2 separate regions of the Homo sapiens genome follow, and region 1 is linked to region 2. The links come from fine-mapping of genetic effects on gene expression. A gene starts in region 2. The other region holds a variant in brackets. All regions are shown on one strand. Distances are from middle to middle.

Region 1 (14,929 bases), 360 kb after region 2:
GAGGCAGGGAGAACGTTTTGCTGGGGCAAGCGGGAAAGTTGACATCACTGTTGTGTTGGGGTAGTATTTTACAGGCTGCTCCGGAGCCATCGGAGCTGGCCAGTTTGGCTGGGTGGGAAGGCTGCCAGAACCTTCCATCTTTGTTCCATAGACGGGTGAGAGTTCTTCATGGTGCTGGACACCCTGGTGATGCAGAACGGTGGTTCTCAGCCGGGGGTGGTTTTGCCCCCCACGAGCAACTGGGGTACAGTAGGGGTGCTCCTTGTCCCAGTGGGTGAGGCCAGGAAGCTGCTCACATCCCCTGGTGCCCAGGACAGCCCCCACACAGTGTCCGCAGTGAGAGGCGGAGGGCCCTGCGGTCGGGCTGGGGGCTGTCATCCCCGCCCTGCTCACCTGCGGAATCTCCACACAACTTTCCCTCCATCCCAGCAGCTTGACGCAGCACTGCCTGGAAATGGAAATCTGACGGAAGGGTCAGATTCTTCTCTTGTTCTGCCATGAATGGTGTGTGCCTGGGTCCTACCACCAGGATTGCTGTTGTAAAACAGGAGAAGCAGGAATTCACCGTGTTTTCTTATTGTGTAGCTATGTTCATCTTCACACTGCTGGTAACAGATTTAGGGCTTAACCAAATGAGCCTCATCTCCTCTTGTTCTGACTATCCAGAGTGGCTTACCGGCTTCATTTGAATTTTTTTCATGTTAAGGAGCATTTTAGCCATGTAAAAATTTACAGAGACTTATATAAGAGCGCTGCGTGTGTGTGTGTGTGTGTTGTGTTCCCAGCTTAAGGAATTACAGAGGTCGAGCCCCAGACCCTACCCCGGTCCCATTCCCTCTGGTGACATTACACTTTCCCTCCCTGGCCATGAGCCCTGGCACACACGTGGTGCCCACTTAGAGGCCTTTACCTCCTATTGGCGCCGTCGCACGATGCGTGGCCCGCAAAGCCCGTTTCTTTGGCTCTGACTTCAATATGTATCTTTGATGGTCATCTAGGTTTTGTTCCTTCACCTCCGCGATCTGCCGTGACTCCATTATCCATTCTCCTGTCTGGGGACAGTGAGGCCGGTTCTAGTTTCTTCTTGCCTTTTGTTCCTTTTCTTAATAAGCAAACTCAGAATTCAGCCCCTGCCACCATGGAGCCCCACATCCAACACACCCTCACTCGCTGCACCCAGCTCTGCTGGGCCCCAGCCTACCCGGCCCCCAGCCTGGGCATCGGTGGGGAAGCTCTTCTCCGGCATATGGTGGCCGCTCCCCTCTCATTCAGAGCCCCCATCTGGCAGCACCTTCCCAGAAGCCTCCCCAGCCCCACGCCCCACCTGGAATCAGGCTTCCCCAGCTGCCCTCTGACCCTGCTCCCTTTTCCTGCTTTATTTTTCTCCTGAGGACTGTGGACTGCAGACGTGCTGTACGTGTAACTTGTTCATTGGCCCGGCCCATCTCTCTCCCCTGGAGCTTGAGAGCCGCACGTGCAGGAACCCAGCCTTGTTAACCACTGTCTCCTCCCACCCTGTCCACACCCAGTGCCTGGTACGCAGTAGGTGCTCAATACACATAAACGGGCACGTGTGTGGTGCGTGTTCTTCAGCGTGGATACACGTGAGTGCCTCTCGCCACCTTGCCTCAGAGTGAAGCTGCTGCGTGAACGGTGCCTGCACCTTCAGCTTTTGTAGATGTCGCCCCAGGCCTTCCACGGGATCCTCTGTTCTAAAGCGCAGGCGCCCCCATCTCGCCACTCTCTACCACGCCGGTCTTGGCCAGCCTTTGTCTGTCTGATAGACACACCTGGTGTCTCCTTGTGGCATGAATTTGCATCTGCCTTGATTGCAGTGAGGTTACAGCCTTGCAGCCTTACAGACTCGCCTTGTGTCGTTTATCTTTCTCTGAGTAGTTTGTAATCAGCATTCATCACAGTTCTGGGTGCTGATTCCTGGCTGAATATATCCATCGAAAATGCATCTAATCTATGACTTTTTATGATGCCTTTGGTGCCACACAAGCTTAATCTTTTAGTTTCTCTTTTTCTTTATAACTTGGGCCTTTTGTGTCTTGTTTTTCCTATTCTCAATGTCCTAAACATATTCTCCTACATTTTCTTCCAAGATTTAAAATTTTCCTTTTTTGTGTTCATGTCTTAAGTATATCCTGAACCACATTTTGTCTCTGTGGTGAGGTGGGGATCCAGGTTGTATTTTTTCTTTATGCCACCCCAGACCCTTCATCAGACAGCCCGTCCTCCCGCCAGTGCTTCTCAGCGTCTCCCTGGCCATCAGTCCTTAGGGTCTGAGTGGGGGCTCCATTCTTAGCAGCACCCATCCCATCCACGGCCGCGCCGACACCCCACACAGCCGCCCCGACACCCCACGCGGCCTCGCTGACACCCCACGGCCGCAGCAACACCCCACACGGCCTCGCCAACACCCCACGGCCATGCCGACACCCCACACGGCCGCACCGACACATCCCACGGCCGCACCGACACACCCCACGGCCGCACCGACACCCCGCATAGCCACCCCGGCACCCCACGGCCGCGCCGACACCCCACACAGCCGCGCCGACACCCCACACGGCCGCGCCGTCACACCACAGCTGCGGGGGCAGCACCTTTGAGCCCGCTCCTCAGTTCGTTTCTCAGAACTGTCTTGGCCGCTCTTAGCCCTTTGCTCTGCTGTATACATTTCACAGTCAGGCTTTCTGTGTCGACAGCAGCCTCACTGGGGTGTTGTTTGAATGGCGCTGAATTGGTGGATTTCCCTGGGATGACTGACTTCCTTGCATCATGAGTCTTCCTGCTCCTGAACAGGGTGTATCTTTCCATTTACTTAAGTCTTCTTTATGTCTTCAAGACAGTCTAACTTTCTGCATAAAGGTCACAGGCATGACGTTACCTTTCAGTTTTTGTAATTTTAAGTAATATCTTTTTTAAAACCTGTTGCTGGCAAAAAAAGAAAGAATGCCAGTGGGCTGGGCACGGTCCCTCACGCCTGTAATCCCAGCACTTTGGGAGGCGGAGGCCGAGACGGGCGGATCACGAGGTCAGGAGATCAAGACCATCCCGGCCAACATGGTGAAACCCTGTCTCTACTATAAAAAAATTAGCCAGGTGTGGTGGTGCGCACCTGTAGTCCCAGCTACTGGAGGAGAATCACTTGAACCGGGGAGGCGGAGGTTGCAGTGAGCGGAGATCACACCACTGCACTCCAGCCTGGCAACAGAGCAAGACTCCATCTCAAAAAAAAAAAAAAGAATGGCAGTGGACATCTGTGTTTCTCTCTTGAGAGTAAACGAAACCTTTCTAACCTTTTACCTTTGATACGACATTTGCTGTAGATTTTTTGAGTGGGTGCTCTATATCAGTTTATAGAAATTCCCTTCCCTTTGGTTCACTCTTTTTATGAGTGCAAATTCCCATTCTATTCTAGTTAGTTAAGAATTTTCCTGATAAATGGAATTAATTTCTTTGAATGTATTTTCTGCATCTCAGAATGACCCTGTGCATGGCTGTTTGTTAGGGTAGGGAATTACATGATTGAATTTCTTGTGAAATATCCTTGCATTTCTGGGGGCACCCAGCGTGGTAATGTCCCCTGACAT[C/T]GCTGCCTTACGCTCACCAGCTATTTCTTTGGGCGCTCCCCATTGGCATTCACGAGTGGGTTGGGCTGTGACTTTTCTTGTCCTGACCTGGCTGGTTTAGACATTGAGTCTGTACCTGCCTAGTAAAACTGGCTCCTCCGGGCATGGTGACAGGTGCCTGTAATCCCAGCTACTTGGGAGGCTGAGGCAGGAGAGTTGCTTGAATTCGGGCAGCAGAGGTTGCAGTGAGCCAAGATCACGCCACTGCACTCCAGCCTGGGTAATAGAGTGAGACTCCATCTCAAAACAAAAACAAAACAAAACAAAACAAAACTGGCTCAGGAGTGTACCCTCATTCCCTGTCCAAAAAAACTGGCTCAGGAGTGCGCCGTCATTCCCTGTCCTCGGGGGCAATTTTTATAAGACAAAGATGATGTGTTCTTTCGGTGTCTGAGTAGAATTTGCCCCTGAACTGTCTGGGCTAGTGTAGTGTTGTGAGGGTGGGTTTGAATTCTGTATTCCATTTCTTTAATGCTGATAGGATTATTTACATTCTCTATTTCTTCATAAGCTAGCTTCAAAAAGTTTTATTCTTCTAGGATTTTATTCATTTCAGCTAAGTATTCTCATTCTTTCCCTTGAGGCTGTCTGCAGTATTCTCATGAGTCTCTAATCTCTGCTGTCTCTTTATTGTTTTAGCTGCTTTTACTGATATTCCCAATCTGCTGCCTCTTTAGATATGTCCCCGTTTATTCCTATTGTTGTTTATTTGCCTTTTCCCCTTTTTCCTGATTAATCCTCTAAGATGTTTGTTCATTTCTTTAGTGTCTTCAAGTTCTAACTTTTAGGCTTTGTGGATTTACTGCATTATTTTATCTTTATTTTTCTATTCCAGTACTTTATTTTGTTTCCTTTCTACTGTTTTCTCTAGGTTCACTCTCTTGTCCTGTTACAGTTCTCAAACAGAAAATAAAAACAGCTCATTAACTTTGAGTTTTTCTTCCTTCCTAATGTGTGTGTTCAGGTCTGCGGGACCCCTGCCCCGGCTCCCCCAACCCCTGCCCCCGCTCCCCCCCCGCTCCCCCCACCCCCCGCCGCCCCGACTCCCCCCGCCCCGGCTCCCCCCGCACCTGCTCACCCAACCCCTGCTCACCCCGCCCCTGCTCACCCCGCCGTCTCCGTCTAGTGAGTTTTGATGATGGGCTTTTCACTTGTGTTCAGCTTCAAGCTTTCTTTCTACTTCCATTGTGGTTCCTGGGGATGGCGGTCCAGCCACAATGACAGCAGCGCATGACAGGAGCCCAAAGACCCGAAACAGACGCAGGGCATCCGCCAAGGCAGTTCCCACCGGGCAACCCTGTGGGTGTGCTCCCAGCCTTGGCCAGCTGCTGCCTTGAGCACCTCTGGATAGAACGAGTCCAGAGCTTGCACCATGCCCTCCAGGGTATGGAGAACTGAAAGGTTCACTACACAACAACCCAGACACGCCAGCTTAGCCCAGACACGCCAACTTGTTAATTTTCATTGAGAAATAACGTTGCAGCTTTGTGCATTTGGCTGTCCACTAAAATATGCCAAGTGCCCAGAAAGCGCAGAGTTGACTCCGTATATTCGAGTATAAATCAAGGTATTGCCAAGTCACCAATGAAATATATTCTAACGTCACTTGTAAGATGTTTGTTTTGAACTGGAATACACTTTTTAAATAGAATTAATGTTACATATAGTGGTTAGGTTTCCAGGCTAGCCTGCAAGAGTCTTTTAAAACCTGTCTGCAGAAATTCTACTTATAAATCTACAATGAAAAAAGGTATTTAAAAATTTTTTTTTAAGTACTAGAAAATGTAAATTCATAGTATTCTGTTTTGATTACACATTTCCCCTGGCCCCGGCCACAGCTCCTGTGAATAGCTCTCTAGCGCCTCCAGCAGGTTAGTGCCACCTCTGCCCCAGTTCACGCTCATCAAGGTCAAGGTGATAGCTCCCTTCCGTCACGTGTAGGTTAGAGCAGGAGTCTGCAAACTCTTCCTGTGAAAGAGCTTTGCAGGTGGGACTGCCCCTTGGCACTTCCCCAACACTGCCAGTGTGGTGCAAAAGTAGCCAGAGACCGCGTGTAGGTGAATGAACTTGGCCATGTTGCTATGTAACCGTGTGGACTGAAGTTTGAATTTTGCGTAACTTCACATCACAAAATATTGTTCCTTTGATTTTTTTTTCAACCACTTAAAAAGTATAAGAACCATACACAGGCCATAGAAAAACAAGGCTGAGTTCAGCTCAGAGAGCCTGACAGTAGGGCACACCCTGCCCGCACCCTGGCCTCCAAGGATACTCCTGTGAGTCAGAGGGCTTGGGATTCTCCCACGGATTGGACAGATATTTTGACAGTGCCCCCACTGTGCATGCTGGGGCACAAAAGTACAGAACAGGCAAACCCAATGCCACCTGTGTCGAAGCCAGTACCATCGGCTCTGGGCATCTCCCACCCCTCCCTGCAGAAGTGGGCGTCCTCCCTCTGCAGCCAAGGGGACCGGCGTTTACTCAGGTTGACTCCTGGCCAGGAGTCGGGGACTCCTCTTTGTGCCCCAACACATCCTTCTCTCAGCCGGGCATCTGTGGCCGTCTCCTCCCCGCCTCGCAGCCACCTGAGCCAGCAGCTCTGGCCTGGTGGTCGCAGCTCTCTCCCGGGTCTCCCTGCTTCCACTGTGGCCCTCCTGGGGCCGTGTGCTCACTGTGGCCTTCCTTTTTTTTCTGAGATGGAGTTTTCCTCTTGTCACTCCAGCTAGGGTTTAATGGCGCGATCTCTGCTCACTGCCTCCCGGGTTCAAGCAATTCTCCTGCCTCAGCCTCCCAAGTAGCTGGGATTACAGGCGCATGCCACCACACCTGGCTAATTTTGTACTTTTAGTAGAGACAAAGTTTCTCCAAGTTGGTCAGGCTGGTCTCGAACTTCCAACCTCGGGTGATCTGCGCGCCTCAGCCTCCCAAAGTGCTGGGATTACAGGCATGAGCCACTGTGCTCGACTGGCCTTCTTCTTTCACAGGAAGCGACAGCAGCATCACCCCTCGGTGCTCACCTGGTGACCGTCTGCCAAGGGCCTGGTGGCCCCGCCACCCTACCTGGCCCATGCTCCATGGGGTTCTCGGTTCACTCTCGTCCCTCCACTCACACGTATCTGGCCATCAAGTAAGAATCAAAATAAAAAGTTGCACCTGGCCTGCAAGTGTGCAGAACCGCACCTTTTGTTGATCCAGGAAGCTCAAGCCAGGCAGTGTGGCGCTGGGTCACCATGGCACCATTGAGAGCTTCCGTCTGCAGGTCCCCACGCCCACAGCACCTCCCTTTCCCCCTGGGCATTTGGATACCACATGGGCATCTCCCCTTCTGCTGGCGAAGGCTACAGAAAGTTCACAGCTGTGGAGTTTCCAGGTGGCTGAACTTGCTGAGGCTGCTGTTTGCTGTGCGCGTGCCATGCCTGAGGCCCTGGGTGCTGTCCACAGGCAAGAGGGACTGCGGAGGCCCCGCCCAACTCCTGTGTGAAACTTAGCTCTTGTCTGTGATGAGTGAATGCCGTTGTTATCCTCGGTACTGGTCTCGGTGGAGTACAGGGCGAAGAATCGCAGTTTCATTTGAGGGCCACCCAGACGGGAAGCACACAGCAGCCTGGGGCCCGGACACAGGGGCTTGGCCTCCATGAGTTTTCTCCTCTGCCGGTTCTTTCTTTTCTGTCTTCTCGAAGGAGCTGGACTCCCCATTCCACCATCCTTCTTATACAATGTGATTCCTGACTTTTTTTTTTTTACTGGAGAAAACTGAGTTTTATTCGTATATCATTCAAATCTTAGGAAATTTGACAGGAAAGAGTTTCACAATGAGCTGGAGTTTAGGAAGGAAAGAAAACAAAGTCGCCCCTGCAAAGCCAGCCTCATTCATATTCAGTGAGGTGTCACTCACACCACCTGGAAACCACCGTGCTTACCTAAGTGTTTAGAAGTCATAACTTACACAGAATCCCATTGTGCACAGCACTTCCCTGTTTCCAGCCAATTTCTTCTTTCATTTCAGCCAAAGAACAGCAATCTCTTTAGTCCTTTCAGTGAAGATTGCAGAGGCTTTCAGAACCATGGCAACCTGGAGAGTCCATGTCTCCCCATCTTTCCTGGTGCCCCAGAAGCCCTGCCCCAGCGCCTCCCCATCTTTCCTGGCCCCCCAGAAGCCCCGCCCCCAGCGCCCTCCCTGCTCTGCCTTCCCCAGAGCACTTGCATTCTTACACCCTCAGTCACGTGTTTCCTTTCTTCCCCGTGGCAATGAAGCCCCTTGGCTGGTACTTGGCTTCCTTTGATCGCTGATGGAGCCCAGGTTCCCCCAGCAGTGCCTGGCCCTGGTGGGGCAGGATAAATGTTTGTGAAACTAAATGGGAACCCAGGTCTCAGCACTGTGTCAGGTTCTAGAATCTTCTTTGATGTCTCCATCCTGCTTGTTTCTCACTCAGCCCTTCGTCTGGCCTGACATCCACAAGAATCCCCTACCTCAATCCCTCCTATTTCCAGTGCCCCCATCCCACCAGGCCTCGTTGCCCTGGGTCTTGCTCTCTGCAGACCACAACTGGGCAGGCCCTCTTTCACACCAGCTCCTCACCACCCTCCAGGTGAAGCCTTCGTTAAAACCGCATTTTCTGTAGAGGCCAAACCATTGTCTGACATTCAAGGCCTTCCTTCAGCCTCCTGCCCCCCGTCTCAGCAGCAGCCGCTCCACTGCACCTGCCCGCAGCACCCCTGGCTGGCCCCTGGCCCGGCCCCTCTGCCATCCGTGCAGCTCAGAGCCAGGTGGTCTTGCCGGGAGGTTGCCTGGCCCACCGCCAGGATCCCCATGTAGGTGCCTGACCCAGTACATCAAAGCATGATGTCGCCATTTTTACCACCACAGTCCTATAAAGTTGTTTCTTGCTAACGCATGGATGTGTGGACACAGGCCTCACCTGTCCCGGCCCCCAGCCCATGCGTCTGCCCTCTGCACTTATCTGTGTTCCTGACGGCCACAAGTGGCCGTGGAGCTGCTCAGGATGGAAGGATGGCTGGAGACGGTCTGTGGCCTGTGTCCACATGTCCCGGGACCCAGCCTGAGGTGCCCTCCTCACCCCCAGACACCCATGCATGTGGCCCCACACCATGTCACTCCCACGCTCATCCGTCCAGCCCCAGCTCCCAGCTAGAGTGCAGTCCCATGGGGGACCACGCTGCTGTGTGCTCCACCCGCCTTCCCTCCCGAAACCCTGCGTCTCGGCCAGAGTCCAAGCACACCCGTGCTGAGAGGCGAGGCGGGAGTTAATTCTGCTCGGGACTCTGGTGGCCTGAGAAGGCTCTTCCCGCAGAAACAGCCTCATCCCGAGAGCGCTGGCAGGAACGCAGATCAGAGGCCTGGGCTAGATGGGACCAGTTTTCACGACTCTGCTAGATACGGTGACATTTTTTACGGTTTTGAAAATGAGTTACCATAGAAATGGATCCAGGATGGACTAATGCAAGGGAGGGGAGGGCGAGAAAGGAACACAGCCCTGCGGAGCCTGGAGCCGGCCCTGGTGCAGCTGTGGCAAGCGCCCTGCTCACCCAGAGGAGGAGCTGGGGGCCCTGGCCAGCGGCAGAGCCAGAAGCCCCGCAGGCCGCCTGTGCTCTCCACACCTGAACACGGGATTCTGCGGGAGAGCTGGTGTCAAGTCCTGACCCCTCTACTTCGTTCCGAATCTGGGAGCCAGAACTACTGCCTTTGGAGGAAAGAGGAGCCCGGAGACCCGAGCCCAGAAACTGGGGCACTGCCCGGCTCCTGGGAGGCCACAGAACAGTGGCGGCCCCTGCACCCCAGGCCTGCCCAGGCCTCTCAGCCGCACACATTGCGGCCGGCTGCACTGCGGCATCATTGGTGTTCACAGGACGGGCCATAGCAACTGCTTCTCCCTTGGTTTATTTTTTAATGTTTCTTAAAGACGGGGTTTCGCTGTGTTGCCCAGGCTGGCCTCGAACTCTTGGGCTCAAGCAATCCTCCCACCTCACCTTCTTGGGTACCTAGAACTACAGTTTCCTTCCTTTTTTCCAAGGCATCGAGAAGCTGAAAGAGTCCTTACAAGCCCCGCGTGCAGCTCCAGAGACCCCCAGTAGTGAGTTCCGGCCAGGCCTCGAGGTCTGGGTTTCAGGGCAGAGAAGGTATTGGTTTCTGCCTTTGCAGAAAAAAAGCCTGGTGCTCGCTCAACCAAAAGAAAAGCTAGGCAGGGTTTTTGCCAAAGGAACTGTGTAGGTTTGGAAGGAAAAGGCTTCACAACCCAGAAACTGGAGTTACTCTTGTCAGAAGACGGTGGTGAGAAAATGAACAACAGTTTTCCAATGCTACAGGATTATGTTTTTAGGACAAAAGTCCTTAACTAAAGGCCATTATGATGTTTGTCTCGTAGGGGTACTGAATATGCTGAGAAAACGATGCAGACGCACCGCCCACCCGGCCCGGGAGGTGCTGCGTCTTCCCTGTGGGCAGCTGCAGGGCCCACGGCTCCGGCCGGCCCAGGAGGAGGGAGGGCGGAGCGGCTGGTCAGCGTGATTCTCGTAACAGCCACACCGAGTTGTGGGTGCAGCCCCTGAGGGGTCAGGAGGGGTCACAGGAAAGGGGCCGCTGCGGAAGCCCTCGGCCTGGGGCACTGGTTCCCCAGGATGGCAGAGGGTCTTGGCCATCACAGACTGGGTGAGCACATCAGAGGGCGTAACCCGCTCTGCCAACCCCTCAGCCTTGGGGTGGCGGCTGGCAGCTGTCACCTGCAGGAAGACTCTGTCTTCTCTGAACTGCTCCGACAGCCGGGGAGCTTCTGGGATTCAGAGTCAGCCAGAGCTCTGAGTAAATTTCCCCGCCGTGTATGCTATTTGGAAAGCTGTGGCCATTGGGCTCTGAACAATAACTTCTAAAACCATTCATTATGATCTTTTATTACTTTTAGTCTAGACATGAAAATAGGTTCTCCGTGCTTACAGGGAGTTCTGTGAGTGCCAGCAGGGGCCCTTTCTAAGCTCAACATCCCCGGTCCCTGACTCCCTGCCGGGCAGGACCCAGGCAGCCCCACCTCCTTCCTGGTGGACTCGAATCCGATGGGAAGTTCTCTGCGGTCTGTTTTGGGGACTGGCAGATTTTACAACAGGACAGTTCATACAACGGAGCCTGAGAGAAGATTGTGGCCAAACCAGGGAAAGACGTGAAATAAAGACAGCAGTTCCGTGATCACAGCGTCATACTTTTTACTAGTACATAGTTATAAAATCCACTGTCACTAAAAAGACTGGCAAAAATTAGATTTTTTTTTCCCCTGTTGAGTCGCAAACAGTATTTCGACTTTGATATAAGTGGAAGTCTGCACGAAGGTCGACAACAATAGCGTTGGCCCTCGGTACGCGTGGGGGACTCAAGGGCCCAGGGCCCACGACGCTCAGTCCTGCTAGGAAAGGCGTGACAGCTGTGCATCCCCCACACACATCCCCCATCGTGCTTGCATCTTCTCTAGTTTCCTTATAATGCCAAACCCAGCACAGTGTGTCAACAGTGGTTATGCTCTCTTGTTTTTTTTTTTATGTGTATTACTTTTTGTTTTGTTTTCAAATATTTTCGATCTGCGGTTGGTTGAATCCATGGATGTAGAGGGCCAACTGTAATAAAAATCTGTTTTTAAAAATTAGATGAAAGTGGCCAGGCGCAGTGGCGCATGCCGGTAATCCCAGCACTTTGGGAGGCCAAGGCAGGTGGATCACGAGGTCAGGAGATCAAGACCATCCTGCCTAACACGGTGAAACCCGTCTCTACTAAAAATACAAAAAAAAAAAAAAAAATTAGCTGGGCGTGGTGGTGGGCACCTGTAGTCCCAGCTCCTCAGGAGGCTAAGGCAGGAGAATGGCATGAACCCAGGAGGCAGAGCTTGCAGTGAGCCGGGATCGCGCTGCTGCACTCCAGCCTGGGCGACAGAGCGAGACTCTGTCTCAAAAAAAAAAAAAAAAAGTTAGATGAAAGTAGCAGCTAATACATCTCACACACACCCCCACCCCGCCCTGCACATTGCCAGGGTCCTTACCTGGAGTGTCCTGTGGAGCCCTGACCTAGACCCCGGGTGTCCGCGTCTGTGGCCCCCACATTGTGGGTGAGGCTTGAGCAGCCACCAGCCTGCACCCTCCTCGCAGTCTGCCAGGGCCGCCGGGAGTGGGGGGCCTCCTGCCGTGCCTGCCCTGGGTTCCGGGCTTGCCCAGTGCCCTATTCTTCACAGTGGCCTGGTCCTCACCCCCGGGTCTTGTGAGGAGGGTTCTCATATAAGGCCAGCTGCCCCTCACAGCCCCTTCACGGGGCAGTCGAGCCTCGTGGGGAGCTGCTTCAATGCCTCACTCAGCTGTGGGGAGCCCAGGACCCCAGAATAATCAAGGGGAGTGGGTCTCAGGTGGGCAGTCATCAACGGGCATCTTACGGGGCCATCCTGTCACCCATGTTAGAGAGTGTCGTGGAGCTAGGCGGTAGCGAACTTCGCCAGTGAGGCCGCATCTCCTCCTCACCAGGGCCTGTCGCGGGAGGGAATTCAAAGCCAAATCTCCTAGCCCACCCACCCACTCTAAAAAAAAAAAATGAGGACGCAGCCATCGCCGATGTCCTTGTGTTGCACGGAGCAGTTCCTAGGAGCCGGCTCCGCTGGGGTAGAGGAGACTCTAGGGATGTTCCTACAGTCTGGACCGATTTTACATTTCCGAGACTTGCTTGTGGATCTACACGGCTATCGCAGAGCTGTGCAATCTGAGAGCTGGAAGGCTTCGGTTCTGTCCCAGTACACGCGGTGCAGGACCACGGTTGAGCAGAAGGTGCATCTGCGTGGCACCGTGGCGCTGAAGTCCAGGTGTGCTTGGGCCCTAGGCTCCCAAGACGTTCCCACTGCCTCCTCCTGGGCACAAGGCTCAAGCACAGGGACCGCCGGCCAGGCACACATGTGTATGGGCAAGACCCGCAGGGGACGTGTCCCTGGGAAGAATGCTTCCTTTGGTTGAAGGCTGTAAACTCGCCCTGTGAGGTGAGACATGTCAGCTCCCAGAAAAGGTCCCAGCCTCTCATGATTCACGCCAGCACAGGCAGCACAGCAGCAGAGCGTGACCTCCTAGATGGCAGCGTGACCTCCTAGATGGCAGCGTGACCTCCTAGATGGCAGCTGAGCTCAATTCCACACGGCTCAGTCCTGGAGACAATCACTCACTGCAACACGCATTCCTCATGGGGGCCTCTTCAGGAGCCACGGGCATGGGGCTTCCCTGACCTCTGCACTCACGGTGGGGGCGCGCACAGCAGGGGTAGACACTGGCCCGCCATATCTGGAGCTGAAGTAGAGCCCGTCTTGGGCTCGCTTAGCGGAGACCATAGGTGGAGGTGAGCCAGTGGCCTCAGGCATCTGCAGAACCCACGCACACATTGACTTTCGCACCCGCCTCCATCTCCGTGGACTTGACTGTGTCGTGCAAAACCCACTCCACGTGCGCAGCTGTGTTCCTGCAGTGACACGAGGCCCTCCACTGGCTTTCGATGCTTCAGCTCTTTCACCAACAATCAGGTGGACTGGAATCACACCTCACTCGAAACCCTTTGAATCTCTATTTAGTGAACAAGCACTTGCTTCTCAGCAAATTGTCTAGCTTCCCCAAAAATAAAGAAGATGGAGTTCTGTGTGGCTGGATCCCTTTTCAGCTCCCAGCACTGAGGGCAGGGCCCTGTCTGCCTCCGCCTCTGGGTTGAAGCCTGGCAGTAAACTGGCACTCCTGGTGCCCGCAGGCAGGGGAGGCAGCGCCTGGCCCCGCTCTGCCCTCCACGCTCAGCGCCTCTGGTCCTCGGCCCAGCCCTTGCTGGACATGCAGCCTCTACCAGGATTGCTGCTTCCCTTCTCGGCCTCTCTGGGTCCAGCGTGGCGTGGACAACAGTTCGGCAATGCCTGCTCCATCAGCCTCCTCCCTGGCCTCAGCCAATGCTGACTGTGCCAGGAGCCCACATAGCCCGTGCCTGCCCCCCCTTCTGGTTTCCAAGTGCTCACAGCCTCCACCCCACAATCTCTGATTGGCTCCTGCAGGCTTCCGTCAGGTATCCCCCAAGGCTCCGCGTCCCCATCACCTCCGTGTTTTATTGTTCAATGTCTTAGATCTTGTTTGTGCTACCCCCTCTCGCTCCACCCCTCCTTTGCCCAGAGAATGATCCTCCTTCCCTTCAAAGCCCAGCTCCTTCGTGCCTCTTCCACCAGGCCTTCCTGGCCTTCACTTCCTAGCCCACTGCTGACAGAAGGAGTCACTCTCGCTCCTTCCTGCATCTCCCTGAGGCCGCACGCTGTCGTGGACGTAGCATGGCTCAAAGGTTTGATGGGTGTGCGTTCACATCCTTCATCCTCTGGGCCTCACCTTCCTTGGCGACGCTGGGGGTAACACCTGCCTGTAGGATTGCTGGGGAATTAAATAGGACCGAGCAGCCGCACCGACGAATCCTCACCGACGAAGCCTCAGCGCTTCCCTCCATGCCCACGACTCACCAGTGTTATTTATAAATGAGTCTGAGTCCCTGCTGGGTCCTGCCTTGTCTGTCTTTGTATCCGAGTATGCAGCACAGAACCTTGCATTGAGTGTTGGGTGAGTCGGGAGAGGCTTAGGGACAAAAGTCACAGCACATCAACCTTTCGTGAAGTCCTAGCATCTCAGAGCAGGGCCAGTGCCTGGAGGTGGACAGGAAGCACGTGGAGGTGGGCAGGAAGCACTCCCTGGGTCACAGTGCACAGCAGCACGTGCTGAACTTGGTGCAGTGCAGACGTCCATGCCACATGCACCACTACCCATGGGCTGCGGCAGCTCCTAGAAATCTAGGATGTGACATCAGACGCTCCTCCGGGAGTGTGGTCATGCCCTCCGATCCGCTGAGGCATTTCAAGGAAAGTTACACCCTTTCCAACGCAGTTTTCCTTTTAGAAAGATTTGGCCTCAGTAGATGAATCCATGTGATCAAGCCTAGTGATCAGCTAGGATTCTTGAATCTCGGGACCCGTTGCCAGAATAACAAAATGGGGGCTTCCTGTAACCTCGGCTCTTTAAAGCAACACTTCTGATACCAGGGTTAGGGTTTCAGAAAATGCAGCCGCCTTAGGAGCCTCATTGGCAGCTACTTTCCACTAAAACATCTTCCATTTCTCTCTCTCAGGAGTTTCCTTTAACAGTGTTTACACTCAGATTTGGAGAGTCCTGCTGCACCTGGCTGCTGACCCCTATCCAGAGGTCTCGGACGTGGCCATGAAAGTACTCAACAGCATCGCCTACAAGGTACGTGC
Region 2 (15,527 bases):
ATTTATTTTTTTATTGATCATTCTTGGGTGTTTCTTGCAGAGGGGGATTTGGCAGGGTCATAGGACAATAGTGGAGGGAAGGTCAGCAGATAAACAAGTGAACAAAGGTCTCTGGTTTTCCTAGGCAGAGGACCCTGCGGCCTTCCGCAGTGTTTGTGTCCCTGGGTACTTGAGATTAGGGAGTGGTGATGACTCTTAAGGAGCATGCTGCCTTCAAGCATCTGTTTAACAAAGCACATCTTGCACCGCCCTTAATCCATTTAACCCTGAGTGGACACAGCACATGTTTCATAGAGCACAGGGTTGGGGGTAAGGTCACAGATCAACAGGATCCCAAGGCAGAAGAATTTTTCTTAGTACAGAACAAAATGAAAAGTCTCCCATGTCTACTTCTTTCTACACAGACACGGCAACCATCTGATTTCTCAATCTTTTCCCCACCTTTCCCCCTTTTCTATTCCACAAAGCCGCCATTGTCATCATGGCCCGTTCTCAATGAGCTGTTGGGTACACCTCCCAGACGGGGTGGTGGCCGGGCAGAGGGGCTCCTCACTTCCCAGTAGGGGCGGCCGGGCAGAGGCGCCCCTCTCCTCCCGGACGGGGCGGTTGGCTGGGCGGGGGCTGACCCCCCACCTCCCTCCCGGACGGGGTGGCTGCCGGGCAGAGACGCTCCTCACTTCCCAGACGGGGTGGCTGCCCGACGGAGGGGCTCCTCACTTCTCAGACGGGGTGGCTGCAGGGCGGAGGGACTCCTCACCTCCCAGACGGGGTCGCGGCCGGGCAGAGGCTGCAGTCTCGGCACTTTGGGGGGCCAAGGCAGGCGGCTGGGAGGTGGAGGTTGTAGCGAGCCGAGATCACGCCACTGCACTGCAGCCTGGGCACCATTGAGCACTGAGTGAACGAGACTCCGTCTGCAATCCCGGCACCTCGGGAGGCCGAGGCTGGCAGATCACTCGCGGTTAGGAGCTGGAGACCAGCCTGGCCAACACAGCGAAACCCCGTCTCCACCAAAAAAATACGAAAACCAGTCAGGCGTGGCAGCGCGCGCCTGCAATCGCAGGCACTCGGCAGGCTGAGGCAGGAGAATCAGGCAGGGAGGTTGCAGTGAGCCGAGATGGCAGCAGTACAGTCCAGCTTCGGCTCGGCATGAGAGGGAGACCGTGGAAAGAGAGGGAGAGGGAGACCGTGGGGAGAGGGAGCGGGAGCGGGGGAGGGGGAGGGGGAGGGTTCTTTTTCTTTTTTATTATTTTTTGAGATAGGGTCTCTGTTGCTTAGGCTGGAGTGCAGTAGCGTAATCTCAGCTCATTGCAGCCTCCACCTCCTGTATATAAGCAATTCTCATGCCCCAGCCTCCCATGCAGCTGGGATTACAGGCATGCACCACCACACCCGGCTAATTTTTTTGTGTTTTTTACATAGAGACGGGGTTTCGTCATGTTGGCCAGGCTGGTCTCGAACTCCCCACCTCAGGTGATCCGCCTGCCTCGGCCTCACAAAGTGCTGGGATTACAGGCATGAGCCACTGCACCCGGCCCCTTTTTTCTTTTTAAATCTGCCATGGGTACAGACCACATCTTTGTGATTCTACCTTTAGGATCTGGGGGAGGAAGGAAGGGACTCCCAATAATGGGATGTTTGACCTCCAACGGACACTGTACCTTCATCCCTTCTCCACAAAGAATCCGTAGGGCCGTAGACAGCAGCGTCTGATGCCGTAAAGCCTTGCAGATGGCTCCCCAAGTCCATCCGGACTCATCGGTCAGGGCGCCCAGGCTGGAAGGCCACCCAGCGGGGACTGGGCCTGGGCACCTGCTCTCCCAGCTGCTTTGCCCTTGTCTTGCTCCACATGGCAGGCGTCTCAGAGAGGCTCTTCACTGCCCTTCGCAAAACAGCCCAGGGTGGGAAGGAGAGGCTGGGGTGCAGGTCCCAGCTCCGTGTTGGGCTCTCAGGCAGTCCCCTCCCTGATGCATCTCCTTCTCGGCTCTGTCTTTGCCGTGTTTTCCTTGGCTGGCTTTTTAAGGCTAGGGCTATGCAAAAATCCTCACTTCTGAAGGAAGAAATGTGGACAGTGGGTGAAGTTTATTCAGTAAGAGGCACTTTTCACCACAGTCCCTATGCTACCCAGGGACCCTTTTAAAAATGGGAATAACTTTGTTTCTGCTAATTGATCTACATGCTTATTATATAAAAAAATGAATAAAATAGAAAGGTGTGCTGTAGAAGGTGAAAATCACATGCATAAATACCACCATATTTTTAGACGGGTGGAGAGGGGGAGACAGCCTTGCTGGGCTCCTGGCAGCCTCACATTCCCAGCTGAAGGCAATGCTGTGGCCGTGTTACCTCCTTTTCCTTCCTCTTCTCACTTCACTGTCAACAAAGCATCTGACCTGCAGGGGGGAGTGGCTCGGGTTTTACTAAAAACGGAGTCATGATGCTCAGACAAAAGCGACGTTCTTCATGTCTATTTTGGTTTCCTTTAAGTTAAGCATAGATTTTTCTGGAAAGGACCGGAGCTGGCTGTTCTCCCTGCATGGAAAACAACAGCTCAGCGAAGCACCTGGTTTTCTCAAGTTCCCTGACCTCCAGCCTTGCTCCTGATTCTTGATGACAAAACACATTCAGTGCCCTTGATTGATTTAGCAGAGAAGTGGCAATGCTGCCGCATGGAACGCAGCCCATTCTGCCTGTGAATGGAATGCCTCGGCTGTGATGGTCTTCTGTTTTGGGAAAAGATTAGGTCAGTTGCAGTGGGTCAATGCTGAGCTCGGAGACTGAATATCCAGCCACCTTAGTTCTTCCTGGTAAAGGCTATTTATCTGAGCCATTTATGCAACCCCCACCCCCTGCATTTCTCCCTGCATTCATTTCTGCCTTCTGTCATATTTGCCCCCCACACTCAGGTTTTTATATTTGTTCTCTTGCTCACTTTGCTGTATCTTTAATTCCATTTGTCGAACAGTCTAAGTTTTAGGGTAAGAAGGAGTCACCTGGTCTACCTTTACATGGTAGGACAAGGTGCCCCACTCTGTTCAAGCAGGTTATTCTGCTTTTTTTTTTTTTTTTTTTTTTTTTTGAGACAGAGTTTTGCTCGATTGCCCAGGCTGGAGTGCAGTGGTGCAATCTCAGCTCACTGCAGCCTCAAACTCCTGGGCTCAAGCCATCCTCCCACCTCAGCCTCCCTAGTGGTTGGTACTACAGACGCATGTCACCATGACTGGCTAATTTAAACAATTTTTTTTGTTGTTGAGGCCAGGTGTGGTGGCTCATGACTGTAATCCCAGCACTTTGGGAGGCTGAGGCAGGTGGATCACCTGAGATCAAGAGTTCAAGACCAGCCTGGCAACATGGTAAAACTCTGTCTCTACTAAAAATACAAAAATTAGCTAGGCGTGGTGGTGGGCGCCTATAATCCCAGCTACTCTGGAGGCTGAGGCTGGAGAATCACTTGAACCTGGGAGGCAGAGTTTGCAGTGAGCTGAGATCACGCCACTGCACTCCAGTCTGGGCAACAGAGCAAGACACCATCTCAAAAAAAAAGAATTATTATTATTTTTTTTTTGTCGAGACAGGGTTTCCCGGTGTTGCCTAGGCTAGTCTCAAACTCTTGGGCTCAAACAAACCTCCCACCTCAGCTTCCCAAAGTGTGGGATTACAGGTGTGAGCTACTGCGCATGGTCTGTTCCACTCTTTTTGGATCCTAGCTGGGCCTGGAAGCCCCTTCAGCCCCACATCTGCAGGCTGACGTTCACCACCAGCAGGAGGCTTTCGTGGCATGTGGTCTTACAAACACCTCTGTGTTCAAGTCTTGAATAAGTGACTGTAAGAGACTCATGGAGCAGGTTGTTGCCAACACCCTCCCCCACTTTCTTTCTTAATTTCTGCATTTTTTAAAAATTAAGATGGGATCTTGGTCTACTGACTAGGCTGGAGTGCCGTGGTGCAATCATAGCTCACTGAAGCCTCAAATTCCTGGGCTCAAATTCCTGCTTCAACCTCACAAGTAGCTGGGACCACAGGTATAAATATTAAATTTTTTTTTTTGGTAGAGACAGGGTCTCACTATTTTGCCCAGGCTGGTCATGACCGTTTTCATAGCTTGAATCAAACCAGGTTTGTGTGTTTTCTGAGATTCCTAACATTTTGTTTTTAAGATTAAAGTATTTTAGCTGGACACGGTGGCTCATGCCTGTAATCCCAGCACTTTGGGAGGCCAAGGCGGGTGGATCGCCTGAGGTCAGGAGTTCAAGACCAGCCTGGCCAACATGGTGAAACCCCGTCTATACTAAAATTACAAAAATTAGCCAGGCGTGGTGGCGGGCACCTGTAATCCCAGCTACTCGGGAGGCTGAGGCAGGAAAATCGCCTGAACCCGGGAGGCGGAGGTTGCAGCGAGCCAAGATTGCGCCACTGCACTCCAGCCTGGGCGACAAGAGCAAGACTCTGTCTCAAAAAAAAAAAAAAAAAAAAAGGATCTTATTTAAAGTCTCTGTGGACAATAGATGTCCTTGCTTGTGAAGAACTGGAGACATTGGAAATTGGAACTGCAGCCCCGAGTGGCCAGCCCACCACATGCCACAGTCATGGAATCACCCAGGTGAGACAAGTCAGCCCTTGAATTTCCAGGCTGCCATTACTCACAGATGCTCACTGCCTTTCAAAAACCTAGAGCCACTTCCAAATGCTTGGCTGGGACTTGAAGAGAATCATCCGTGACATACTAGAACGAGGTTTCTTTTAAATGTCAAGATGCCATAAAATGATTCAGGCCCATCCTTGAACCTTCAGGGTGAGAGCTGAGCAGTCACAAGCCCCTTTCTGGTCTTTACATGAATCACAGAATTTCAAACTGGAAGGATCCTTAGAAATTCGCCTTCTCCAAGTTCCTGATGTCACAGACGTGGAGACCAAGGGTGGAGGAGGGCAGAGGCTTTGCTGAAATCTGCAGGAATTGGTGGCAGGTTGGGGACCATAGAATGTGTGTGTGTCTTCATCCTCAGTCCAGGACCCGAGTGGACCCCTGGCTCGGGGTCACATGTGTTAAACAGTAGAGGGTGTGTTTTGTTCTGCTGTTTTGAGGAGAAGGTGAGTCTCTTTCTGCTTTGTCAGATGGAAGTCTGGACAATTACTTCATAGCATTCATTCATTTGCCACACATATTGATTAAGGGCCCAATATGGGACCCGAACTGAATCACTGCAGGAGACTTTAGAGCGAATATTGTCTAAGACCTCCAAGTCTGCCTGGCTGTGAACTATCCTCAGAGCGACCTGATTTAAGAATTCAGATTCTGGCTCTCTTCCTTGGCGCTGCCTATGGAGGGGGCAGCCATCTCCTCCTTGGCATCATGGCCGCCCTCAGACCCCCTGTGAAGCCCAAGATCATCAAAAAGAGAACCAAGAAGTTCATCCGGCACCAGTCAGACCGATGTGTCACGATTAAGCGTAACTGGCAGAAACCCAGAGGTATTGACAACAGGGTTGGTAGAAGGTTCAAGGGCCAGATCTTGATGCCCAACATTGGTTATGGGAGCAACAAAAAAACAAAGCACACGCTGCCCACTGGCTTCTGGAAGTTCAGTCTACAACGTCAAGGAGCTGGAAGTGCTGCTGATGTACAACACTTCTTACTGCGCTGAGATCGCTCACAGTGTTTCCTCCAGGAACCGCGAAGCCACCACAGAAAGAGCCGCCCAGCTGGCCATCAGAGTCACTGACCCCCATGCCAGTCTGCGCAGTGAAGAAAACGAGCAGACAGCTCATGTGCATGTTTTGTGTTTAAATAAAACTGTAAAAACTGCAAAAAAAAAAAAATGCAGATTCTGAATCCCGGTCTCCCTGCTCCCCGATCTGGGGCTCTGGGTTGGAAGCTGGGCATCCTGAATTTTAGTTTCCTGGGCGATTCTGACCACCTGGTGGGTTTGGACTTCAACGTGCTCACTGACACCTTCGTTTAGAATTTCAGATACGAAAAATGGATTTCCCAAGGTCACACACGTTATAGGTGAGGAAACTGAGTCTCACACAGATTCAGTGGGCTTTCCCAGGTCACAGAGCTAGTTAGGGATGAATGGGTTTAGCGTTGCTGCTTTTCTGTAACTGTGACTTCCTGCAAGAGCTGCTGGAATGCAGCTGTCTACAGCCACCGGAGGTGGGGAGCAAGGTGACAAGGCAGAGGACAGGAGTGATTTTGTTGCCTTCAGATGAGAACGGGGTCTTCCTAAGACCCTGCATCCCTGAAGCCTCTGCTGGTAACTGTGAGGATAGTCTCTGCCAACAGAGAGGGTGCCCTGAGTTTCAATAGGAGAATTGGCTCCATGGGGTGTAATAACCAAACGAATGTGCGGAATGACAATGATTTAATCCTGTAGCCTTTATTAAAGGCTTGCTTTGTGCTGGGTGAGAAAGGTCTGGGATTGTATTCTTCATTCTCATTTTGAAAGGAACACAAATGCCATCAAGATTTTGATATGGATGGCCACATGTGTCTAAGCCCCGGAAAACCATCCTGAGAGATCAAGACCATCTTGGCCAGGATGGTCTTGAACTCCTGACCTCATGATCCACCCACCTCAGCCTCCCAAAGTGCTGGGATTACAGGCGTGCACCACCACGCCTGGCCTCGTTTTATTCTTATTTATTTATTTATTTATTTATTTATTTTTGAGATGGAATCTCACTCTGTCACCCAGGCTGGAATGCAGTGGTGTAATCTCGGCTCACTGCAACCTCTGCCTCCCAGGTTCCAGCTCTTCTCCTGCCTCAGCCTCCCGAGCAGCTGAGACTACAGACGCACGCCACCACGCCCAGCTAATTTTTGTATTTTTATTAGAGACGGCGTTTCACCATGTTGGCCAGGCTGGTCTCGAACTCCTGAACTCGTGATCCACCCTCCTCGGCTTCCCAAAGGGCTAGGATTATAGGCGTGAGCCACGGTGCCCTGCCTACATTTGGTTTTATAGTCCACCTTACACAGTTCTCTATACATTGTAAATGAGCCAAATTTCCTGAATTGAAAAAGAGAGTCACACAAGAGGCTTGCCTCCACGCACAGACATGTAGTTTTAGATGTCTGCACGTGAAGCTATATCAAAATAAGAATAAACTACTGCTACCAAGAAGTGGGAAAAAAATTTAAAAAGGATAAACTGCTCAGAAAACGAAACAGATTAAACAAAAAATTGTATTAGATGAAATTTTTTTTCATCGAATCTTGCTCCAGACTCTTCTTCTGTTGCTTCAGACCCTTCTTCATCTGAAGAGTCTTGCTCTGTCTCCCAGGCTGGAGTGCAGTGGCACGATCTTGGCCCACTGCAACCTCCGCCTCCCGGGTTCAAGCAATTCTCCTGCCTCAGCCTCCTGAGTAGCTGGGATTACAGGCGCGCACCACCACGCCCAGCTAATTTGTGTATTTTTAGTAGGGACGGGGTTTCACCATGTTGGCCAGGCTGGTCTCGATCTCTTGACCTCGTGATCTGCCCGCTTCGGCCTCCCAAAGTGCTGGGATTACAGGCGTGAGCCACGGCGCCCGGCCTTTCACTTGGTTCTCTATGAAAAAATTAAAGAGAAAATCTGATTGACACTGTGGAGGACACTACACTCCAAAAAAAAAAGTACTATATTTTCTAATATTATCAGTGCTTTTTAATATTTTCTAATATTATCAGTGAAGCTTTTGCCGCTTTTTCAAAATCTGGAAGAAACAAGGCGGTTGATTCCTTTAATTTCAGGAGCATGTAACTTCATTTATAATGACAATGTTTTTGAAAAAATAAATTAAACCGACAGTTTCATTTGTAGGATTGACTTTAATAACACGCCTCTACTGAACAAATGGCGATTAACTGGGGAAAACGGAATTATGGTAACCGAGGTAACGGGGTCGGGGACTCTTTCTCCTTCGCTGCATGCTGGGTGGCGGGGAGAGACCGCTCTGAGGAGGTTTGGTCTGTCGGCCACGCCGTAGGCCGCGGTGCATTCTGGGTCCTGGCAATATGGCGTCCTCCTTGATGGGCTGATGAGATGAGTTTCACTGTAGCTCCAAACCAGAGGGCAAAGCTCCCATGACCCAATAAGCCCACATTGTCCCTTTCCTCCGTGGTTCCGTGTCGCCCGTTTCTCAGGACTCGTTCTCAGGCAGGAGAGAGCCTCGGGGCTGAAGGCCAGGACCAGCCAGGCCGCGCGGACCTGAGGTTGAGGAACCGGGTGCAGGCGAGCACGATGGGCCGGTCGTGGCTCTGGTTGCAGCAGCTCAGACGAGTGCGGGACCCGCAGGGCTGAGAGTGGCTGGAGGAGACCCAGGGCCCTTTGAACCCGATCCCTTGGCCGGAGACCTCAGCCCAGTCGGCCCAGTGGGCGAACCGGCACCAAGAGCGGCCTGCCTGTCTTCGGAACTGCTGAGGCGGTGGAGGCCGAGAGCAGGGTCATCGTGAGGCCTGAAGTCTCTTACGCTTTTGGCAGCTCCCCTCGCAGCCCCTCTGGAAACGTACAGCCTCAGGAGCAGCCAGTGGCTTGGGACCTGGGGTGGTGTGTGTCTGCGGAGCTTCTTGGGCTGCCCCATTTCCTAGCGGCCCCCACCTCCCCACTTCCCGCTCAGAGTTAGAGATAAGGATCTCAGACTTTTGCCTGAGTAAGGGTCTCCGCACTCTTTATCCATTTGGTTTTCGATTTCCCGTTTTTGTTTCTTATTTCACCAATTCTGGTACACGCTAGTTTTTAAGGCTGGAGGTTCTCGAGCGCTTGCTGCCAAGGACTCCCCCACCCCCTCCCCCACTGATGGAGTCCGAAATGCTGCAATCGCCTCTTCTGGGCCTGGGGGAGGAAGATGAGGCTGATCTTACAGACTGGAACCTACCTTTGGCTTTTATGAAAAAGAGGCACTGTGAGAAAATTGAAGGCTCCAAATCCTTAGCTCAGAGCTGGAGGATGAAGGATCGGGTAAGTGGATTCTGAAGGCACCCCTTGAACTTGGTAGTTTCCCCAACAAAGAAAGTTTACAGCCCGAAAAGTGTCCTTGGGAAAGCGCCGACATTTCCCCCTAGCCACACGTTGTAAGTCAACTAGAAAGCAAAAGCCATTTCAGACTGCAGTTTTTGGTTGAAAATGGAAAATGCTGTTTTGGTTAGTCATTATTCACTGGGTAGTGTTAATTCAATTCCAACTAAGTTCTAATTCAGATAATAAAAGTTAAGCAAATTTGAAAATAGAGCATTGCGAGTATTTACATGCTCTTTGGCATACTACTTAGTTCTGTAAACACTTAGAGGAAGGACAACGTGCGATATAATCTTTATACCCACATGATTAGTCTACTTTTTAAAATATCCAAGCTGGGTGAAGTGCAGAAGTCTGATATACTATGCTAGGAAATGAGATTACTGGAAAATGTTCAACTAGTAACAAATTAGTGCAAAGTTATTATAAAGTTACACTGAACTTCATTCTAGTCTTCTAAACAATTTCTCTTGAAGCTAGATTTTCCTCCTTTTATGTAGTGTCCTGTTGCTGTAACTTGGAAACAGGATTTCTTTAATCGTGAGTTAGGGTATGAGGCGTCGAGACTTGGGTGCAGGTTTTAGGGTGTCCGCATGGTGTTTGGAGTGTGGAGAGTGACTCACAAGCAGCTGGTAGGAAAGAAAACAGCCGAATTTTGTTGGATTTGTCCTTCATAAAACACCCATCTATTTCCTGGCCTCAAAAGCAAAAGGGTAGTACTGCTTCTCCTCTATGCACACTTATAATTTGTCTTTTTGTAAGTTATTTTCTCCCTCCAGGCTGCTTTTATTTGCACATTTCAGTGGTATAAAAGAGGAAGTTGGTGTTACAATGTTTGATTTTCTCTAGGCTTATGTATATGTTTATGGAATATTATTGTTTTTTAGTATATGATGTTGAACATATATAAGATTACACTTCTGGGCTGGGCGCGGTGGCTCACGCCTGTAATCTCAGCACTTTGGGAGGCCAAGGCAGGCCTCCCAAAGGCAGGCGGATCACCTGAGGTCAGGAGTTTGAGACCAGCCCGGCCAACATGGTGAAACCCTGTCTGTACTAAAAATACAAAAATTAGCTGGGCTTGGTGGCAGGTGCCCGTAATCCCAGCTACTCGAGAAGCTGAGGCTGGAGAATCGCTTGAACCTGGGAGGCAGAGGTTGCAGTGAGCCGAAATCGCACCATTGCACTCCAGCCTAGGGGACAGAGTGAGACTGTGTCTCAAAAATAAATAAATAAATAAAACTTCTGGTAACTCTAGTCAGTCAGTCAGTAGTAACCAGTTAGCTACTGACTTGGCTTACTTCTAAAAGGTTAGGAAAATTTGTTTCATCCAAAAGCATTTTAAGGAGTTAAATAAGTTAGTCATTGGGGGAGGTTGTATAAATTCTATCTTATGGACATCTTTAGTAGTAACTATATAGTTAAAAGCTTTTGTGGTTGCTATACATATATGAAAAGACTTTTTAAAAAATTCTTTGTGGAGGGCAGTTTTTTTGTTGTTGTTATTTTGAAATGTGGTTCTCTCTGCTGTCCTAAACCTATGTTCCAACAGTTTGAAACTGATTAATGGGTATACGTTTGACCTTTTAATTAAAACATTAATTTGTGAATGATCAACATTCCCTAATAAGCTTTTCACAGGTTGTTAAGAGAAACAAAAGTTCTGTGACTCTTAGTGACTACTGAGATTGCTGCTTAGAAAGGAGCTGGGGAGAAAGTTTGCTGTATCTGTTTTTCGGTGGAGAAAATCAGCAGCTAACATCTTCAGTTGAGTGTGTGGGAGTTTGGAATCTTGTCATCTCTTCCCTCTTCCAAAGGTCAGGTCCTTTGGAATCTTGTCATCTCTTCCCTCAAGGACCGTATCACACATGCTATAGGACAGAAGTTGCAAACTCAAATGATATTGAGTGGGGATGGTAGCATAAGAGAATGAAACAGGCCACATTTAAGAAGAATAATGGCATAGGTTCAAAGATAAAGACAAATGGCAGCTGACATTTGGCACAGTGTGTGTGACAGTTTCTGGAGGGTGGGAACAGGGGCTCCCTGATGCCATAACTGAAGGGGCAACTGGGCTATGGCCAGGCCTCTCTCTTTGTCTTTGAGAAGTCAGCAAACTTTTTTTTTCTTTTATTGTAAATATTCATACTAATTCAGATTTATTACCAAACACACTGTAGTCCAACACTGCAGGCTGAACAACCCCATTTGTGGAGTGTTTTTCTGTTTCTTTTTTTTTTTTTTTTTTTTTGAGACAGGGTCTTGCTCTGTCATCCAGGCTGGAGTACAGTGGTGAGATCACACGGCTCACTGCAGCCTCGACCTCCTGGGCCTGAGTGATCCTCTCACCTCAGCCTCCCCAGTAGCTGAGACTATAAGTGTGCGCCAGTGTGTCTGGGGTTGGGGAGTCTCACTGTGTTGCCCAGGCTGGTCTTGAACTCCTGGGATCAAGCAATCCTCCTGCCTTGTCCTCCAAAAATGCTAGGATTACAGGCATCAGCCAACACGCTCAGCCTGGGGTGGTTTTTTTTTTTTTTTTTTTTTTTTTTTGAGATGGAGTTTCATTCTTGTTGCCCAGGCTGGAGTGCAGTGGTGTGGTCTTGACTCACTGCAACCTCCGCCTCCCAGGATCAAGCTATTCTCCTGCCTCAGCCTCCCAAGTAGCTGGGATTACAGGCGCCTGGCTAGTTTTTTTTGTATTTTTAGTGGAGATGGGGTTTCACCATGTTGGCCAGGCTGGTCCTGAACTCCTGACCTCGGGTCGTTCACCTGCCTCAGCCTCCCAAAGTGCTGGGATTACAGGTGTGAGCCACAGCACCTGGCCCTGGGGTGTTTTTTGACCAGTGGGTTACCTACGTAAGAATCTCTGTTACCCAGGCCTCCAGGCCACACAGTCCCACTGTGCTGGACGTAGCCTCCAGTCTGGTGGAGCAGCATGTTTGTAAAGTGAAATGTGTGGGCGTGGTTGTTCTGTGCTAGGAGCTACATCAACTACTTCCTGGTGGCCACTGACTGTCCTAAATGCAAGCTGAGATTTTGCTTCTTCTTGTGGTTAATGTGCAATTCCATACGCTTTTATTTTGTACATATATTCATTAGTTCTTACTGGCTCCTATTTAGTAGCCTTGCTACAGATTCCTCAAATTGACATCTTTACCAAAGTTGACTGACTGATGACTCCCAAGAAGTTTTTTTTGCCACCCAACACTTGGCATCCTTCCAGAGCTACAGCCCTTGCCCGCTCTCAGTTGGGATTCCTGCCATCTTTGTTTTGAATCAGTCTTGGTTTTCAAATGCCACTTTTACCACATTTTAATTTCTAAGTTACTGTTACTTTAAAATTATTATCAAGTTAGTTTGTTGTTTGGTTAATTCTACTATGTATAGTGAATGAGGCATATATGTATCCATAGTGTTTTTAGCTTGCAATTTTCAAATAACTAGACATATATGAATTGTAGTTCAAAATGAATCATTCACAGACCTTTGGCTAAAACAGATACGTATATATCTCCCCTATTTGTGTTTTTGGCTCACTGCAACCTCCGCCTCTTGGGTTCAAGCGATTCTCCTGCCGCAGCCTCCCGAGTAGCTGGGATTACAGGTGCCCACCACCATGCCTGGCCAATTTTTTTCATATTTTTATTAGAGACGGGGTTTCACTATGTTGGCCAGGCTGGTCTCAAACTCCTGACCTCAGGTGATCCACCTGCCTCGGCCTCCCAAAGTGCTGGGATTACAGGTGTGAGCCACCGTGCCTGGTCTAACTGTGATACTTTATAGTTATCACAGAGTTCATTTTCCTACTGGAAAGTGGACAGTGGGGATAACTGGTCTCAGATGACTCTTTTGCCTGGAATATGTGGGATGGAATGACGGGTGCTTGAGAGCTATTGCTCTGAAAGTGTTGACAGACATGCTATGTCTACACACATGTAGACTGACAGACACTCTGTCTACATGCATGTAGCACCCCTGGCAGACACATTCTGTGTACACATGTGTGGTGTCATTGTCAGACACTATTTCCATGCATGTGTAGGACCACTGACAGGCATCCTATGTCTACATGTGTAGGGGATGAAACGGTTAGATGAAGAAGGCTATTTTGTAAACCATTCTCTAGACTCAGTTGCATTGCTCTGTAGCCATACTTTGCCCAGGTCATGGAGGAAGCAGAGTAGATCTGTTCAACTAATACATGGACTGCCAAAGGTTTATGCGGTCTTTTCAGCAAGGGTAATAGCAATCCTTCATAATCTACACTACCCCCTCTGCTTTCCTCACCTTGCGTCCTCTCCACATTCCAACTGTGCCCTGTTCCACTCCCCTGAGACTGGTCTCCATATGGCCCCAGTTTGTTGCTAAATCTAAAGTTCTCTTCTCTGTCCTTCTCTGTTCTTATTTCACCTCTCAGCAGCATTCCACAATGTGGACCATGGCCTCTTCATAAAGCTCTTTCCTCACTTGCTTCTGTGTCTCCACGAAACTCGGATTTTCCTCTTAGGTCACTAGTTGTTCCTTCTCAGACTCCTTTGCTACCTGACACCTAAATGCAGGGGCACCCCAGGAATTGATCTTGGACCCCATTCTCTGTTCTGGGTGTGCCCCTCCCTAGCAGATCTCATCGGGGCCCATGATTTTAAATAGTGTCTACATGCCAGTGATGCTTAAACCCCCAATCTTTAGTTCTGATCTGGCCTGAAATTTCTGTCTCAGATGCCTACTGCCTGCTTTTTCTTAGTTTTCTCCATCACCGCTTGCCACAACCACCATCCACTCAGTTGTTCAAGCTGTAAGTTTAGAGTTTATCCTTAATTCTTTCCTCTCCCTCTCTTTATCGCCCCATCCAATTCATTAGAACCCATCAGCGTTACTTCCAAAGCATGTCTTACATTGGCCTGCTTCATTTTGTCTCCACTGATGCAGCCCCAGTCCAGGCAGCCACCGTCTCTTGTCTGGACACTGCATTTGTGTCCTGACTGGTCTCCCTATGTCCATTCTTGCCCTACAACCAGTTTTTCACATAGCAGTCAGAGGGATCTTTTATTTATTTTGAAATGGAGTCTCTCCTTGTTTCTCAGGCTGGAGTGCAATGGCGTGATCTCGGCTCACTGCAACCTCCACCTCCCGAGTTCAAGAGATTCTCGTGCCTCAGTCTCCCGAGTAGCTGGGACTACCAGTGCATGACACCATGCCCGGCTGATTTTTTGTATTTTTAGTAGAGATGCGGTTTCACCATGTTGGCCAGGCTGGTCTTGAACTCCTGAGCTCAAGTGATCCTCCCACCTCAGCCTCCCAGAGTGCTGGATTACAGGCGTGAGCCATCACACCTGGCCAGAGGGATTTTTTGAAAGTGTGAAGGGGTGGGTTGCCCCTCCACACCTGTGGGTGTTTCTTGTTAGGTGGGACGAGAGACTTGGAAAAGAAAAAGAAACAGAGACAAAGTATAGAGAGAGAAATAAGGGGACCCAGGGAACCAGCGTTCAGCATATGGAGGATCCCGCCAGCCTCAGAGTTCCCTTAGTATTTATTGATCATTCGTGGGTGTTTCTCCGAGAGGGGGATGTGTCAGGGTCACAAGACAATAGTGGGGAGAGGGTCAGCAGACAAACACGTGAACAAGGGTCTTTGCATCATAGACAAGGTAAAGGATTAAGTGCTGTGCTTTTAGATATGCATACACATAAATATCTCAATGCTTTACAAAGCAGTATTGCTGCCCGCATGTCCCACCTCCAGCCCTAAGGCAGTTTTTCCCTATCTCAGTAGATGGAACGTACAATCGGGTTTTATACCGAGACATTCCATTGCCCAGGGACGGGCAGGAGACAGATGCCTTCCTCTTGTCTCAACTGCAAGAGGCATGCCTTCCTCTTCTACTAATCCTCCTCAGCACAGACCCTTTACGGGTGTCGGGCTGGGGGACGGTCAGGTCTTTCCCTTCCCACGAGGCCATATTTCAGACTATCACATGGGGAGAAACCTTGGACAATACCTGGCTTTCCTAGGCAGAGGTCCCTGTGGCCTTCCGCAGTGTTTGTGTCCCTGGGTACTTGAGATTAGGGAGTGATGATGACTCTTAAGGAGCATGCTGCCTTCAAGCATCTGTTTAACAAAGCACATCTTGCACCGCCCTTAATCCATTTAACCCTGAGTTTGACACAGCACATGTTTCAGAGAGCACGGGGTTGGGGGTAAGGTCATAGATTAACAGAATCTCAAGGCAGAAGAATTTGTCTTAGTACAGAATAAAATGGAGTCTCCTATGTCTACTTCTTTCTATACAGACACAGTAACAATCTGATCTCTCTTGCTTTTCCCCACAAAAGTGTGAATCAGATTCTGTTACTTCCTTACTGGTGGTCTCCATTGGCTTCCTCTGTGCTTAAAGTAGAACTCAGACTCCTCTTGCTGGTTCACAAAGCCTTCATGATTTGGCCTCTGCCTGCCTTTTCTGCTTCTTGGATAGAAACTCCTGGAATGCTTTTCTCTCTGATCTTTGCACACCTGGCCCCTTCTCGTCGTTCATAC

What was found.
Region 1: its variant is fine-mapped to the expression of RPTOR in whole blood (INTERVAL, PIP 0.95).

Annotation. Positions count from the first base shown.
Region 1 is chr17:80,894,009-80,908,937 of GRCh38, forward strand. RPTOR (regulatory associated protein of MTOR complex 1) reads left to right here. Exons shown (of 34, transcript NM_020761.3): 21 at 14,803-14,921. Among named protein-coding and RNA genes, the nearest start is that of CHMP6, 90 kb to the right of the region's middle. The variant C/T (reference allele first, on the strand shown) is at 3,603.
Region 2 is chr17:80,536,856-80,552,382 of GRCh38, forward strand. RPTOR (regulatory associated protein of MTOR complex 1) reads left to right here and starts at 7,983. Exons shown (of 34, transcript NM_020761.3): 1 at 7,983-8,936. The coding sequence starts at 8,775. It also overlaps the pseudogene RPL32P31. RefSeq lists enhancers at 7,677-8,503, 7,837-8,196, 8,477-8,576, 8,504-9,330.